Linked DNA regions of Homo sapiens. The protein of the gene in region 1 purifies or fractionates together with the protein of each later gene. This does not show direct contact. Each region holds a gene or a part of one and is shown on either strand. Other genes may lie near its edges. The genes, in order: OPN4 and NDFIP1.

What was found.
Region 2: the proteins of OPN4 (region 1) and NDFIP1 purify together in Homo sapiens (affinity purification with mass spectrometry; 3 studies listed by BioGRID and IntAct, with this or other methods). This does not show direct contact.

What each region holds. Positions count from the first base shown.
Region 1 is NC_000010.11:86,650,699-86,657,798, forward strand, and holds the start of OPN4 (melanopsin), read left to right. Parts: upstream 1-3,848; 5' UTR 3,849-4,085; coding exon 4,086-4,229; intron 4,230-5,456; coding exon 5,457-5,602; intron 5,603-6,496; coding exon of another isoform or gene 6,497-6,529; intron 6,530-7,100. UniProt on the Homo sapiens protein: Photoreceptor that binds cis-retinaldehydes. Contributes to pupillar reflex, photoentrainment and other non-image forming responses to light. May be involved in the optokinetic visual tracking response.
Region 2 is NC_000005.10:142,146,779-142,154,056, forward strand, and holds part of NDFIP1 (NEDD4 family-interacting protein 1), read left to right. Parts: intron 1-4,952; 3' UTR 4,953-7,278. UniProt on the Homo sapiens protein: Activates HECT domain-containing E3 ubiquitin-protein ligases, including NEDD4 and ITCH, and consequently modulates the stability of their targets. As a result, controls many cellular processes.

The DNA.
Region 1 (7,100 bases):
AGGACCAGGGAGATTTTGGATTTCCTGATACAATGTGTCAGGTGCTCTACTAGGCAGTGGGTCTCAAAGGTGAACAAATCCGACCTGTTTGCATTCCAAGGAGGGAGACAGACATGGTCAGATGACAATCACTGCAAATGACACTATCACTATCCATAGATGCTCCGAGGGATGGACAGGAGGAGGTGAACAGCTGGGCCCTTGGCAGTCTGGGGGAGGTGGTATTTGAGTTGAGACCCAGAGCAGGGGACAGGCGAAGGTTTCAGGAGCAGTGTGTGAGCAGAGGCTGGGTGACCAGAGGAGCTGTGTGCCTTCGGTGGTCTGAAAGGAGGCCAGCCTGGTCTCCAGGCACGGAGTTAGGCAGATTCAGTGGCTCCTCCTCTCTCAGCAAGAGAAGACTCACCTGAACTCAGCTCCCCAAGGTATCAGGCCTCCTCCTCCCGCAAGGCCTAATCCAGCTAATCCAGCCTAATCCAGCAAGGTCTCCAGGTGCTGGCAGCTGGAGCTCTCAGACACCTCCCCAATCAGCTGGCAGTCACACCCAGACTGCCTGGCGCCTGAGCTCGGCTGCTTGTCCCACAAACAAGGCTACTCTGAAGCATGCATGGAAAAGGGGTAGGAGCAAGGGCAGGTCCCTGGGGACACTGAGTCCCATGCAGTGACAGCAGCCTTGCCCATGCACGCATAGAGGAAATGGCGTGCCTCTTCTTGCTGAGCCTCGGTGTACGTGCTTCCCCCTAAAGCCCACTTCTTATCCCCACATACCAGGTGATGTAGTACCTCCCTCCACCCGCCTCGCCACGTTTGGGCTCTGTCTCTGTCTTAAGAGCTGTGGAAGCCACCAAAGGGTTAAGTGTGGGATTATGTGGAATTTGTGTTTCCACCTGCCTTTAGGGCTGCAGCAGGAAGCAATGGCTGGAAGGGAGGAACCAGAGCAAAGTGGGGCCACGGAAGGGGAGATGTGGCTGGCTACCTTAGCCCCACTATCAGTGCAGAGGTCCCTGGGACCATCGGCAAACCCGGCACCAAGCACTGAGGTCAGCCTGCCCCCGGGAATGGCACCGGGGGAGGAGGAGATGCCCAGGACAGTCTCCAAGGGAGTGGGCACCAGCCAGAGTTGGGACTGGGAGGACTCTGAGGACCCCTTCCACACTTTTCCCTGCGTTGAGATTCTTGGATGGCACAGGCCCATGAGACCATCAACAATCCCAGGTCTCAAGAGGCCGGGCCCCACCCTGAGCCAAGCTTGCAGAGGAGGAGGAGAAGTGCTGAGGGAAGGTGAGCACAGCCAGGCACCCAGGAAGACAGGAGCCACCTGGTCGGAGGGGAGTGATGGAAGGTCAGGGTTCCCACCCATCAGACCACAGCTTCCAGCCAGGACAGCTTGGGCAGCAGTAGTCATAGGAGACATCTGGAGGCTGAGGCTTCCCACGCGGCCCTCCTGGCTCCATTGGATGGCAGGCTCCGGGCAGACGAGCTGCCAGGTGGGTGTGGGATGCAAAGGTTTGGAGCAAGAGCGCCATGGGGAGCCTCCCCAGTGGGACAGAAGCACAGGAGTGAGGGGGTTGGGCCCTGAGGAGATCTCAGTGTCACCCGCAACGGCTGCAGTGCACGGCCCATGGAGAAAGGACATTGTCAGGTGAGACGTGGGCTTCCAAAGGCCCCAGGCTGGGGGTTCCGAGTCCTCTGATCTTTCCCTGAGGTGCTCCTTTGAGGCCTGTGGCACCCTGGGTATGTGGATTCCCGCCTCATGTGTCCACCTGACAAGCACTTCTCCCCTGGACTCCTGTGCCTGCTCCATCACCTGCACCCTCTCTTAATTAGCAGGTTGGAGAGTGGGGTCCACATTGAATGGGACGTTGTGTTGACTCAGAATTGCTCCCAGCTGTGAGGAATTGTTAAACCCCTACATTAAAACGCAAGCAGCTGGCATTGAGCCTAGGGACAGAAAGAAAAGCCGGCCCCTCAGCCTCACCCTGCCCCCAGGGTGGCCTCTGTGAGCCAAAGCCCTGAAGTGGAAGAGCCTCAGGAGGAAGGCAGTCTGAGCCATGGGCTGGCAGCTGCAGGAAGTACAGCTCCCGCTCCCAGTGAGGCTGCTCCCACTTCTCCTGCTCAAACCTGGGGCTCCAGGAGAACTGTTTGTAAAGACTGGGGGAACTTCTGGAAGAGGAGTGATATCTCTGTCCACTCCAGGGCTCCAACACTCCCAGCACTGTGCCAGGACATGGCCCCCACTTAGGATGACCGCTGCCCGGTCGGGCTCCCCTAAACGCAGCCTCTGTGGCAGGCCTAGCCCGAGCAGCCCTCCCTGGAAGCCGTGTGTTCAGCTTCCCTTCTCTCCAGCTCCTGCTGCCTCCTCTAAGACAGGGCAAGGGGCAGGCCCGGGGTCCCCTCCACTTCTGACATCCAGTCAACTTGGATCAGGCCTGCAGGCCTGGGTGAGTTCCTGGGACTCTCCCAATAAGGTTTTAAAAAATCTTTATACTTTAAAAATTTCTGCCGGGCCCAGTGGCTCACGCCTGTAATCCTGGCACTTTGGGAAGCCGAGGTGGGTGGATCACCTGAGGTCAGGAGTTCGAGACTAGCCTGGCCAACATGGTGAACTCCTGCCTCTGCTAAATATACAAAAATTAGCCAGGTGTGGTGGCGAGTGCCTGTAATCCCAGCTACTCGGGAGGCTGAGGCAGGAGAATTGCTTGGACCTGGGAGGCGGAAGTTGCAGTGAGCTGAGATTGCACCATTGCACTCCAGGCTGGGTGACAGAGCAAGACTGTCTCAAAAAAAATAAAAATAAAAAAATAAAACTTTCTTATCAAAAAACAAGCAAAAGCCGCCTCGTGATCTGATCTCACCCTACTGCTACATCCTCCTTGTGTCTCCATCTGTGAAAGGGTGACCAGCCTTGGTTCTATGCAGGGTGACTGTGAAAATGCCATGGCTCATGGGGGCCAAACATGGTGGTAGGGCCCACTGTGACAAGGGTGAGGCTGGGCTGCACAGGCTCAGCTGCCCACAAACAGCTCTGGGGGCTCTTGGGATGGCTGAGGCTGCTCTTGATGAGCTCAGGGAAGAAACACAACAGAGACTGGTCAAAGGAGAGGACACAGCCTTCTGCCCAATGTCCAAGAGCCCGAGCCCAGGAATCTCCCTTGAAACACACACTCTCACACACACTCTCACACACACACATGCTCTCACTCACTCACACTCACACACACTCACATGCACACACACTCACACATTGACACCACTGTCAGCTCAGAAATCTCCCTTGAAACACACACACTCACACACATACACATTCACACCACCATCATCCCAGAAATCTCCCTTGAAACACATACACACTCACACACACACACACTCACACACATTCCCAACACCATCCCAGAAATCTTCCTTGAAACACACACACTCACGAACCCTCACACACACACACACACACACGCACACATTCATGACACCATCCCAGAAATCTCCCTTGAAACACATACACACTCACATACACATTTACGCCATCATCCCAGAAGTCTCCTTTGAAACACACACTTTCACACACTCACACACACACACTCACACACACTCACATTCACACCACCATCATCCAGAAATCTCCCTTGAAACACACACACTCACACACACATTCATGCCACCATCATTCCAGAAGTCTCCCTTGAAACACACACACACACACACACACACTCACACATACACATTCACGCCACCATCATCAGACCTTCGTAGATAGACACCCAGAGACCTTGGTCTGAGTGAGCTGGCGGCATGGAGCGACTGAGCATGTGCAGCTCCCACATCGCTATATAAAGATGGGGATGAACTCTGTGGCTGTGAGTCACCATAACTGCGACACTCACTCATTTGCGCTTCACCAGACACAGAGCAACCGCCAGCCCCAAGAGCAGCTCCAGGCTGGATCTGCGCCGGACACAGGAGAAAGCAGCGGGTAGGCTAAGCAGGGGTGCTGAGGATGGAGGAAAGTTGGGAGGCTGAGCACAGCTGAAGTCCTGAGCTCCCTGTGCCCTTGACTTCTCTGTGGGCTCGAGCAAGGACCATCCCAACTCAGGATGAACCCTCCTTCGGGGCCAAGAGTCCCGCCCAGCCCAACCCAAGAGCCCAGCTGCATGGCCACCCCAGCACCACCCAGCTGGTGGGACAGCTCCCAGAGCAGCATCTCCAGCCTGGGCCGGCTTCCATCCATCAGTCCCACAGTAAGCCTGGGCGAGCATGTGCATGCACAGAGCCTTCCCTGACCCCTTCCTGGTCCCCTCCTGGCCACACACAGGGGCTTTGACAGGGAGATAGAAAAGGTCTGAACTCTGCTGTGGGGCCTTGAGCCATTACTGGACCTCTCTGAGCCCGCCCCTGATAAACAGGCTGATAGAGGAGGGTGCAGGCAATGTCCTTCCTCATGGAGAGCATTCAAGGAACAGAAATGCCAGCCCTGAGGACAAGGGGCTGGAATGGCCAGACCTGTCCTTGGCTGCACTCATTCCTTTCAGAGGTTGCTCGGATGCCCCATGGAGCCCTCCAGGGAGGAGGGCACACCCTGGGCCTCTGGATCTGCCAAGCCCACAGTGAAGCCTTGGGTGCCTTCTGCCACCTCCATCATCCTAGCCCAGGCCCAGGGCCATATTCCATCAACACCACTGCTACCTGGGGAAGGCCGAGGGCACCCTCAGGACCTGGGGATGCTGGCCCAGGTGCTGGACAGGATGGGAAGGCTCCGGTAGCTATAGGGGCCACTGCGGCAGGACAGAGACCAAGCCACCCTCTCTTCCCCAGAAAGGGGTTAGGGTGGGAGGAGTCTTTAAATCCCTTTGTCCTGACCTGATATGGTCATGACCTCCCTTCAGTGACCCTGGGAGGCCTAAGCTTTCTTTCTAAAGGGAATTCCCTTCATTTTCATGCCAGGCATCAAGGTTAGCTGTACCCAGCTATGCTATTGGGCAATGCAGCTTCTCCTCTAAGGCTCAGTAGGGGACGGGACTCTTGAGAGGGGCTCCACCCGACTCACCACCCCAGCGTCTAGAGGCCTCAAAAACTGTCTTGGGCCCTTGGGCTGGAGTCCATACTGCAGGCAGGGATGCACCCAGGAGTTGGCTCTGTCTTCTCCCTAAGGAAAGATAGGGTGACCAGGGCCATGTCCCTGCTTGCCAGTCACATGTCTGTCTGTCCTACCAGCCTCCAGCAGGTGATCTGAGCCCACTCCTAGAAGGCCCCTGTGCCATGTTCTAGGAGCTTGGGCTGGACTTTAGAAAGGACCTGCACTTCCCTTCTGCTTTTGGCCACTTGTGAGCTGTGTGTGCAACTGGCTTTGCCACTCTGAGCCTCAGTTTTCCCACCTGCCCTGTTGAGAATCCTAACTCTTCCTTCTCAGGACTATTTGAAGGTGACAAGCGATAACATGATTCCCTCGTTTCTCTGTCTCTCCGCAGGCACCTGGGACTTGGGCTGCTGCCTGGGTCCCCCTCCCCACGGTTGATGTTCCAGACCATGCCCACTATACCCTGGGCACAGTGATCTTGCTGGTGGGACTCACGGGGATGCTGGGCAACCTGACGGTCATCTATACCTTCTGCAGGTGCCTGGTTGGTGGTGCTGGGCCCAGGGCACTGAGGGTGGCAGCCATGCAGACAGGGAAGAAAATGCAGGCAGGAATGTTGACTCTAGCTCTGGCCAGGGCACTGTTGAGGCTAGGCAAGGAGGGCAGGGCCATGCCTTCGATGATCTCAGGCCCAGACCTTCCTGAAGGTCACGGAAAGGGCCAAAAATGGTCCAGGGAGACTTGACTGACTGGCACTAATTGAGACCCAGGTGCATCCTCTGTGGAGGGTGTGTGTGCCCAGAGTATGTGGGTCTCTGACCATTCTGCCCTGCTCTCAGCGCACCTCTCCGTCACCTGCCCCAGAGAGCATCCTCCCCCTGCGTTGAAGAGCAGCTCTAGGCCAGGCGTGGTGGCTCCCGCCTGTAATCCCAGCACTTTGGGAGGCCAAGGCGAGCAGATCACCTGAGATCAGGGTTCGAGACCAGCCTGGCCAATGTGGTGAAACCCCCGTCTCTACTAAAAATACAAAAATTAGCCAGGTGTGGTGGTGTGTGCCTATAATCCAAGCTGCTTGGGAGGCTGAGGCAGGAAAATCGCCTAAACCTGGGAGGCGGAGTTTGCAGTGAACCGAGATCATGCCACTGCACTCTAGCCTGGGCAACAGAACAAGACTCCATCTCAAAAAAAAAAAAAAAAAAAAAAGAGCAGCCCTGGGGACCAGCATCCTCAAGTCCCTCAAACACCCCTGACACCCACCCCCAGTGTCCCTCTCCATCTGCCCCCCTGCCTGGCTCAGTGGCTGAGACAGGCAGGTGGAGAAGGGAACCCAGGCTGCAGGGCCACACAGCCCCCTGGCTCTCCCACCTGCCAGCTGAAGGACTGGGCACGTCATTTCTCCTCCTTGAGCTCACTTTTCTTTCCGCAAAACAGAGCTGTGCTTCGTGGAGTCACTGTGATGATGCAGTAAGTTCACGGATGTGCGTTGCCCCACAGATGAGCCACTTACTGAGTGCTGTGCACCGGAGCAAGTCACTTCATGAGTGGGAGCATCTTGTCTGGAAAATGGGGACAATGACGCCTCCCTCAGGGTAGATGCAAAGATGGATGATGACAGGAGCCGAGGCTGGTGAAAGTGCCTGGCCCGGCCGTGGTGCACAGCCATCAGCTCCTCTGCCCTTGGCCATCCCCAAGCATGAGGATTACAGAGACAGTGTGCAGGGCAGGGTCCAGGCAGGACGTGACACTGGAGGGAGAGTGGGAGGGGGACCCGCGGAGGAGGGAAGCGTGAGAAGCCATGGGAAAGCACAGTCAGGGCACGCAGGAGGAGGAACCTAGGGAGAAACCTCTAGGGAGACCTTGGCCTAGAGGGACTCAAGGAAACCAGTGAATTGGTCAAGGAAATGGTGTGAGTCGTGCAGAGGAATTTAGAGGGCAAGAAGAGGAAACGGACATGACCCAAGAACCGGCCTGCGCTGGGCCACGCCTCAGGTTTTGGAGAGAAACTGCCCCCTGCTTCTCTCTGAGGGAGCCGTCT
Region 2 (7,278 bases), on another chromosome or scaffold:
AAATAGCAGCCCAGTTGACAGAAAGCCTGAACGTCTCAGTTTTCCTGTGTTGTTTGGTGCTTTACTGAAAATTTTGTTGTTATTGTTTGGATTTTCTAAAATTTCTGAAATGTTTTTTGATATTCTAAATTTAAAACTATGTATGTGGGGTTGTGATTTGAAGTAGGCAGTCCTTAGTAATAATAATGTTGTAGGAAGTACTAAGGGAGATTCAAGTGTTGAGCCTGCTGGTGCTTCAGGAGTGTACGTTAAGAGTTGTCAGAAACTTTCTCAGAGGTAAATGAATGCACACCATTGGAGGGCATAATAGAGTTTATTTGCTTTTCTATTTAACTGTGATACCCTGGTTTATTTGAAATCATTCCTGACACACCCAGAGAATTCAGAGCTCTAAATTAAGGGTTTGAGGAACTTACAGCAGAATTTAGAATTCTAATGACTTCACTAATTTTCCAGGGATCCCCAGAGGGAACCTGAAAAGCCATAATATCCTATGGGACTGAGTTCCCTTTGTCCACTGAAAGGGTAAGAACTCTGTCCAGATCCAGATGTAGAATCCCTTCTTTCTCTAGTTCAGAGGACATTTAGTTTAATTTTGTTAGAAGACATACTAGAAAACCGTCATGTGAAGTAAGAAAGCTTTATTTTTTTCCTCCCTATCGATTCTTTATTATGCTTATCACAGTTTTTAAAAAGTAATTATCTGCTAATTCCAACATCAGGTTAGATAAGTCTATTTGTATTGATGGATTTTTCTCTTGACTCTGGGTTACATTTTCCTGTTTTTACACACCTGGCCAGTTATTTCTTTGTTGCAGCATTGTTAATTATCATGTTGTAGAGATTATGAGCTCTGAATTTTGTCAGAAGGTTGTTGAGTTTTTGCCTAGCAGGCAGTCAAATTACTAAAGGATAAATTTGATCTTATTTCTAACTGTCATGTACAGTGATTCTTCTAGGGAGATAGGGATAGGGGAGAGGGAAAATGTAGTTTAAAAATCCTAGGCTAACTCCTGCTGAGGAAAATCACTGGTAAACTAGTGACTACTCTGCTAAATTGCCTCTCTTGACATTGTCAACCTGAAGCCATCAAAAGGATCAGAATACAGAGTTTATGCAAGTAGAAAGCTGGGAATGGCCAATCAGAGAACACAAACTTTAGAAAATGGGGTCAGTGTTCCCAAAAGCTTTATTTTCTTTTATGGACTTCTACTTCTTTGATGGAGATGTCACCAATTAAAAGGTAGCTGAAGAAAGACACAGGTAGGGAATTTTTAAAATAACTTTGCCAGAAAGATACAGATACAGAATTTTTAAAATAACTTTACCAAAACAGAAAAATAATATACTTTCCATATTGTACTAAGATTTGGCATTTTACTAGAAAAGGGCATAAGAATAGTGACTTTTCTAGTCAGGCTACCTGAAATATAGTACAAATAAACCAATCTTGAAGTGATCCCAAAACACCTCCTTCTAATCAGTCAAAGTAGATATTACAAAAGCTAAACATTAAAGCTCATGTACTACTATCATAGGGGCAGCTCTCAGGTTCCTTTTCAGAGTCCATTTAAGCTTAAGGGAGGGAAAAATGTATTAATAAGCTGTTATCTGTTTTCCTACTTCATAACAAAATGCCAGAAGGAACTGCTAAAGGTGTGCACAGTGGCCATCAAGAAGTATGTGACTGGGCCGGGCGCAGTGGCTCACGCCTGTAATCCCAGCACTTTGGGAGGCCGAGGTGGGCAGGTCACCTGAGGTTAGAAGTTTGAGACCAGCCTGGGCAACATGACAAAACCCCGTCTCTACTAAAGATACAAAAATTATCTGGGTGTGGTGGTGTGCACCTGTAATCCCAGCTACTTGGGAGGCTGAGGCAGAAGAATCGCTTGAACCCAGGAGGTGGAGGTTGCAGTGAGCCAAGATCACACCACTGCACTCCAGCCTGGGCGACAGAGCGAGACTCTGTCTCAAAAAAAAAAAAAAAAAAAAAAAAAAAGTATGTGACTGAGGAAGCAGAAGAAACAGATACCTGTTATAAACATCTGTACCTGAAATGGTAAAAAATGTAAAGTGTTTATACTTTTCTTATTTACCAGTTCACTGGAAAATACATTTTTATGGATTACCACCTCCTCTGATGCTGCCAGGTGAATGAGGAGTTAGCTACAGTAATAAGGTGGTAACACAGTTGATTGGTTATATCTAACACTATTTGTGTGGTACCAAAAGCACTTGTACATATGAAGCATAATATATTTTAAAATTATTTATTTTAACTGCATCTGAAATAGAAGGAAAAAAGGAGGTTTTTGAGCCCTAGCATTAATGAGCTAGGGCCTTCATAATTAAAAAAGTGACCTAGTGAGCTGTACCTATTAGGCATCAAATATTTTAATTTTTTTCCATGTGATAACAGACACTTTCATTTCTCCTTTTCTGTAATTTTTCTCCTGTTCCTTAATACTTCTTTTATTTTATTAAAGGAAATTCATCTCAAGGTAAAGGTTTACTTATTGGACTATGTTATAAGATAGCAAGATAATAGGGAAATGGTGTTTCCAGTAGAATTTTTGCTAAACAAAATTTACATGTCTCCAAGAAGAACTGGTTGTCTTCCTCTTGGAATTAAATGATCTGTAGGCTATTGGATTCCTTTTTTTTTTTTTTTTTTTTTACAAAGTGATCTGATCTATAATTTAGTAATACGGTCCAGAGTCCCTAAGATCTGTTTGTTCTTCAGTTTGTGTACTGCCAGCATTTCTGTAACACTGCCACTCAAGCCTCCAAGTCTCAGACAGCAGTGCCCTCTAGCAGTCTTTCATTTGGAGATTGTGTGGTGATTGAGATTACCCACTGGTGACCTCTCTAGGTCCTCTTGAGATATTTTATTTTAATTTAATTTTTACTTCTCTTACTGAACAAGCAAAGGGATTTTTAATGTTTGTTGGGTGTCAGGCTTTGACTTTGAGGGATCTATTAAAGCTGTTTACCTATGCTAAAGCATCATAAACTAAGGAAGTGGCCAGGTAATTGTCCGTACCATATTGTATATTCTTGCAAACTCTGTTTTGACCTACTAGTCACTGTTTCATCAGTTTTCATCTATTAAAAGAAACTGGGCCAGGCATGGTGGCTCACGCCTGTAATCCCAGCACTTTGGGAAGCCAAGGCGGGCAGATCACGAGGTCAGGAGATCAAGACCATCCTGGCTAACACAGTGAAACCCCGTCTCTACTAAAAATACAAAAAATCAGCTGGGTGTGGTGGCGGGCGCCTGTAGTCCCAGCTACTCGGGAGGCTGAGGCAGGAGAACAGCATGAACCCGGGGGGCGGAGCTTGCAGTGAGCCGAAATTGTGCCACTGCACTCCAGCCTGGGTGATAGAGCGGGACTCCGTCTCAAAAAAAAAAAAAAAAAAAATATATAGAAACTGATAAAACAAATTATTTATGTTTATAATGAGTCTGGCCTCATTGCAAAAACATTCATTTAATATTCATCTGCCAATTTTCTTTTTTGCTTCTGCTTGGCTTTTAGAGTTCCTCATATTTTTGTGTCTCTGTCTCTGTGCTTTCCGAGGTCTTTCAATCTCTTATGTCTCTCAATCTAAAGAAAAGATGTCCTTGTATCAGTTTCAGTGGTTTACTTCAAATCACAACACAAATGAATTTATAGTTTGGAAAAATGTTGATAATATTAAAATATGTTCATTTCCTCCAGTGTGTTTGTAGTCTCTCTCCATTTTGGCAGCCTTTTAAATACTTACGCAGTAATCTAATCAGAAAAGATACAGAAGACACCGGGCATAGTGGTGCACGCCTGTTAGTGCCAGTCACTTGCGGGGCTGAGGCAGAAGGTTGGCTTGAGCCCTGGAGGTGTAGGTTGCAGTGAGCCGAGCTCGCGCCACTGCACTCCAGCCTGAGTGACAGACTCTTGTCTCCAAAAAAAAAAAAAAGAAAAGAAAAGAAAGAAAAGACATAGAAGAGTTTCTTGTGGCTTTTATAGTAATTTGGAGGATAGAAAAGTAAGTTATAGGCCGATATTTGAGCCCATCCAACTCTCACTTCTTGCTGAGTACCACAAAATAGTTTCTCAATAAATGTTTATTAAGCAGTAAATGTATCTCTTTAGTGTTTCTTCTTTTATTCTTAATAGTTCTTCTTTTATTGTTAATATAGGGAATTACTTGTAGTTTTTCCCAAGTTATTTTCATGAGAACCAAAACAATATACTAGTACAGAAATGCCTCAAAGTATTAGATGAAAACTGCATTTAGTAAAATGCGTAGGCATTATTTCGAGAGCATTTATTTCAGTCAGATATATTCCTTTCTTAAAATTTAGTTTGAAAGTACATGTATTATTTTAAGAGAAACATGCCCCAAATACAATGACTTTTTAGGAAAACTTGTTTTTTAAAAGTATTTGTGGTACCTGTGAGTTTATCCTTGTTTTCTAATTTTGCCATGCTCGGTTGAGGTATAGCATGACATGGTTGGCATCCTTACTGGAAAGCTTCCTTGTGCAATATCTAGTGGAATTGTTAGGGTAAACAGTATCTTCAGGTATATTAGGAAAATTACTTGTGCACTTGGATTATGCTCTCTGTCCCAAGTTTCAGTCATTGCTGACAGCGTTCAGTGTGGGATGCGCAGTAGCACTGCTTCCATTGTATTCTTTTGTTAAGAGGTTTGGAAAGAGAGACTCCTGACTTCAGGAGTTTTTAGAAAAAGCATTCCAGTTTTTTCTAGTTCTAGAGGCCTTGATAACTTTAAGAACTGAAATTTTAATGTTTATTGAATACCGTGATGTCAGTATACAGTAATCTTAAAACTATGTTAAAATGCACTTGTGTCTCCAAACATCCTGCCTTCTTTTGTGACTACATCCTTCTCTTAGCCAAAATAACAAGCTAACTAGAGTTTCAATATTCAATATCCTTCTCTGGCAGATGTTTTCTGGCAAAGGCCTTCCTGCATTTATGAATTCTCTCTCAAGAAGCAAGAGAACACCTGCAGGAAGTGAATCAAGATGCAGAACACAGAGGAATAATCACCTGCTTTAAAAAAATAAAGTACTGTTGAAAAGATCATTTCTCTCTATTTGTTCCTAGGTGTAAAATTTTAATAGTTAATGCAGAATTCTGTAATCATTGAATCATTAGTGGTTAATGTTTGAAAAAGCTCTTGCAATCAAGTCTGTGATGTATTAATAATGCCTTATATATTGTTTGTAGTCATTTTAAGTAGCATGAGCCATGTCCCTGTAGTCGGTAGGGGGCAGTCTTGCTTTATTCATCCTCCATCTCAAAATGAACTTGGAATTAAATATTGTAAGATATGTATAATGCTGGCCATTTTAAAGGGGTTTTCTCAAAAGTTAAACTTTTGCTATGACTGTGTTTTTGCACATAATCCATATTTGCTGTTCAAGTTAATCTAGAAATTTATTCAATTCTGTATGAACACCTGGAAGCAAAATCATAGTGCAAAAATACATTTAAGGTGTGGTCAAAAATAAGTCTTTAATTGGTAAATAATAAGCATTAATTTTTTATAGCCTGTATTCACAATTCTGCGGTACCTTATTGTACCTAAGGGATTCTAAAGGTGTTGTCACTGTATAAAACAGAAAGCACTAGGATACAAATGAAGCTTAATTACTAAAATGTAATTCTTGACACTCTTTCTATAATTAGCGTTCTTCACCCCCACCCCCACCCCCACCCCCCTTATTTTCCTTTTGTCTCCTGGTGATTAGGCCAAAGTCTGGGAGTAAGGAGAGGATTAGGTACTTAGGAGCAAAGAAAGAAGTAGCTTGGAACTTTTGAGATGATCCCTAACATACTGTACTACTTGCTTTTACAATGTGTTAGCAGAAACCAGTGGGTTATAATGTAGAATGATGTGCTTTCTGCCCAAGTGGTAATTCATCTTGGTTTGCTATGTTAAAACTGTAAATACAACAGAACATTAATAAATATCTCTTGTGTAGCACCTTTTACTGTAGATTAGTGCTTAATTTCTTGGCTTGCATTTGTTGATTGCTAAGGCAATTTTTTCTAATCTTAGGGAATCATTCAGTAGATGCGATTAAAAAACTAATGTTGGGTCAATTTTTTTCTTCATTTTCAGCACAAGAAGTCCTCTTATATCCTACTAAATACATTCCTAAAAATGTATTTGAACATTGGTTCTGTAAAAGATAATGGACTAAAAAAGTAGAGAGGAGTTGTAGAGATCTTAAATCATTCTGGAATTCCTAATTATGCTTCAATTTTTAGACATAATTTTAGATAATTTATTTCCAGTGTTTTCTGCATGTTCTCATTTGTTCTTTTTCTCAGTTGAATGCACCAACTGGTTTGAGTCCTGTGAGCATTCAGTCAGTTGAAATTAAAGATTCCTCATTTCTCCTGATTTCTATTCTTGTCTCAATCTTAAATTTAGAGACCAGTTGTTTTTATGATATCAGCCATTTGATTTTTTTCATTTTCTATTTAAGAAATATGAAGAAAAAATACACCAAGATGGTCAAATTACTACACAAATCAGCACCAGCACAGTCTGATAGCTGCAAATGTCCATTCATCTGCTGTGTATGTATATCCAGAATCAGCATAGGAAGTCGTTCAGGATATCAGTATATAATGCACAGAAGTGTGGGTTGTTTGAAAGCCAAACAGGAAAATTAGGAGCCTCCTGGATTGACATTTCAATGATCCCTCTAACCAGTTTATGGATTATTATGAATAATAGTGTAGTGTGTTCTTTTTCAGAAGTTATATTTGATAATAGAGAAGGGAGTTTTATGGAAGTTTCTTTGAAGATTTTTTTTTTTCCATTTCGAATCAGATTATAGCAACAATGGAGTTTGGAAGTTTGTATGGCCTATAATGTTCTAAGTTCCAGAATGAAAAGATCTGTAACAATCTGAATAGATGTGGACACATATAGCAGAGAGAACTATGTAAATTATCTTGCAGAACAAAATAGAAGGGTCCTAAATCACGTTAACTCAAACATTGTAGACTAGCTTTGTGTTTATTCTTCAGGTCCTTGCGCCTTATTTGGTTTTGTATATTCAACGAACTGAAATATTTGGAATTCCTATTTCTACGTATTTGGTGGTCCATAAGACTTTGTCAAATGTAAACCTACAGTTTGATACGCTTTAAAATACCTAGTTAAGAGGATGATTTCTCTTTAATCGTTTAAATGTTCTGAAAATTAAAATCTTTTGAGGCACATGAAGTGGGCACCATATATCATCTAGAG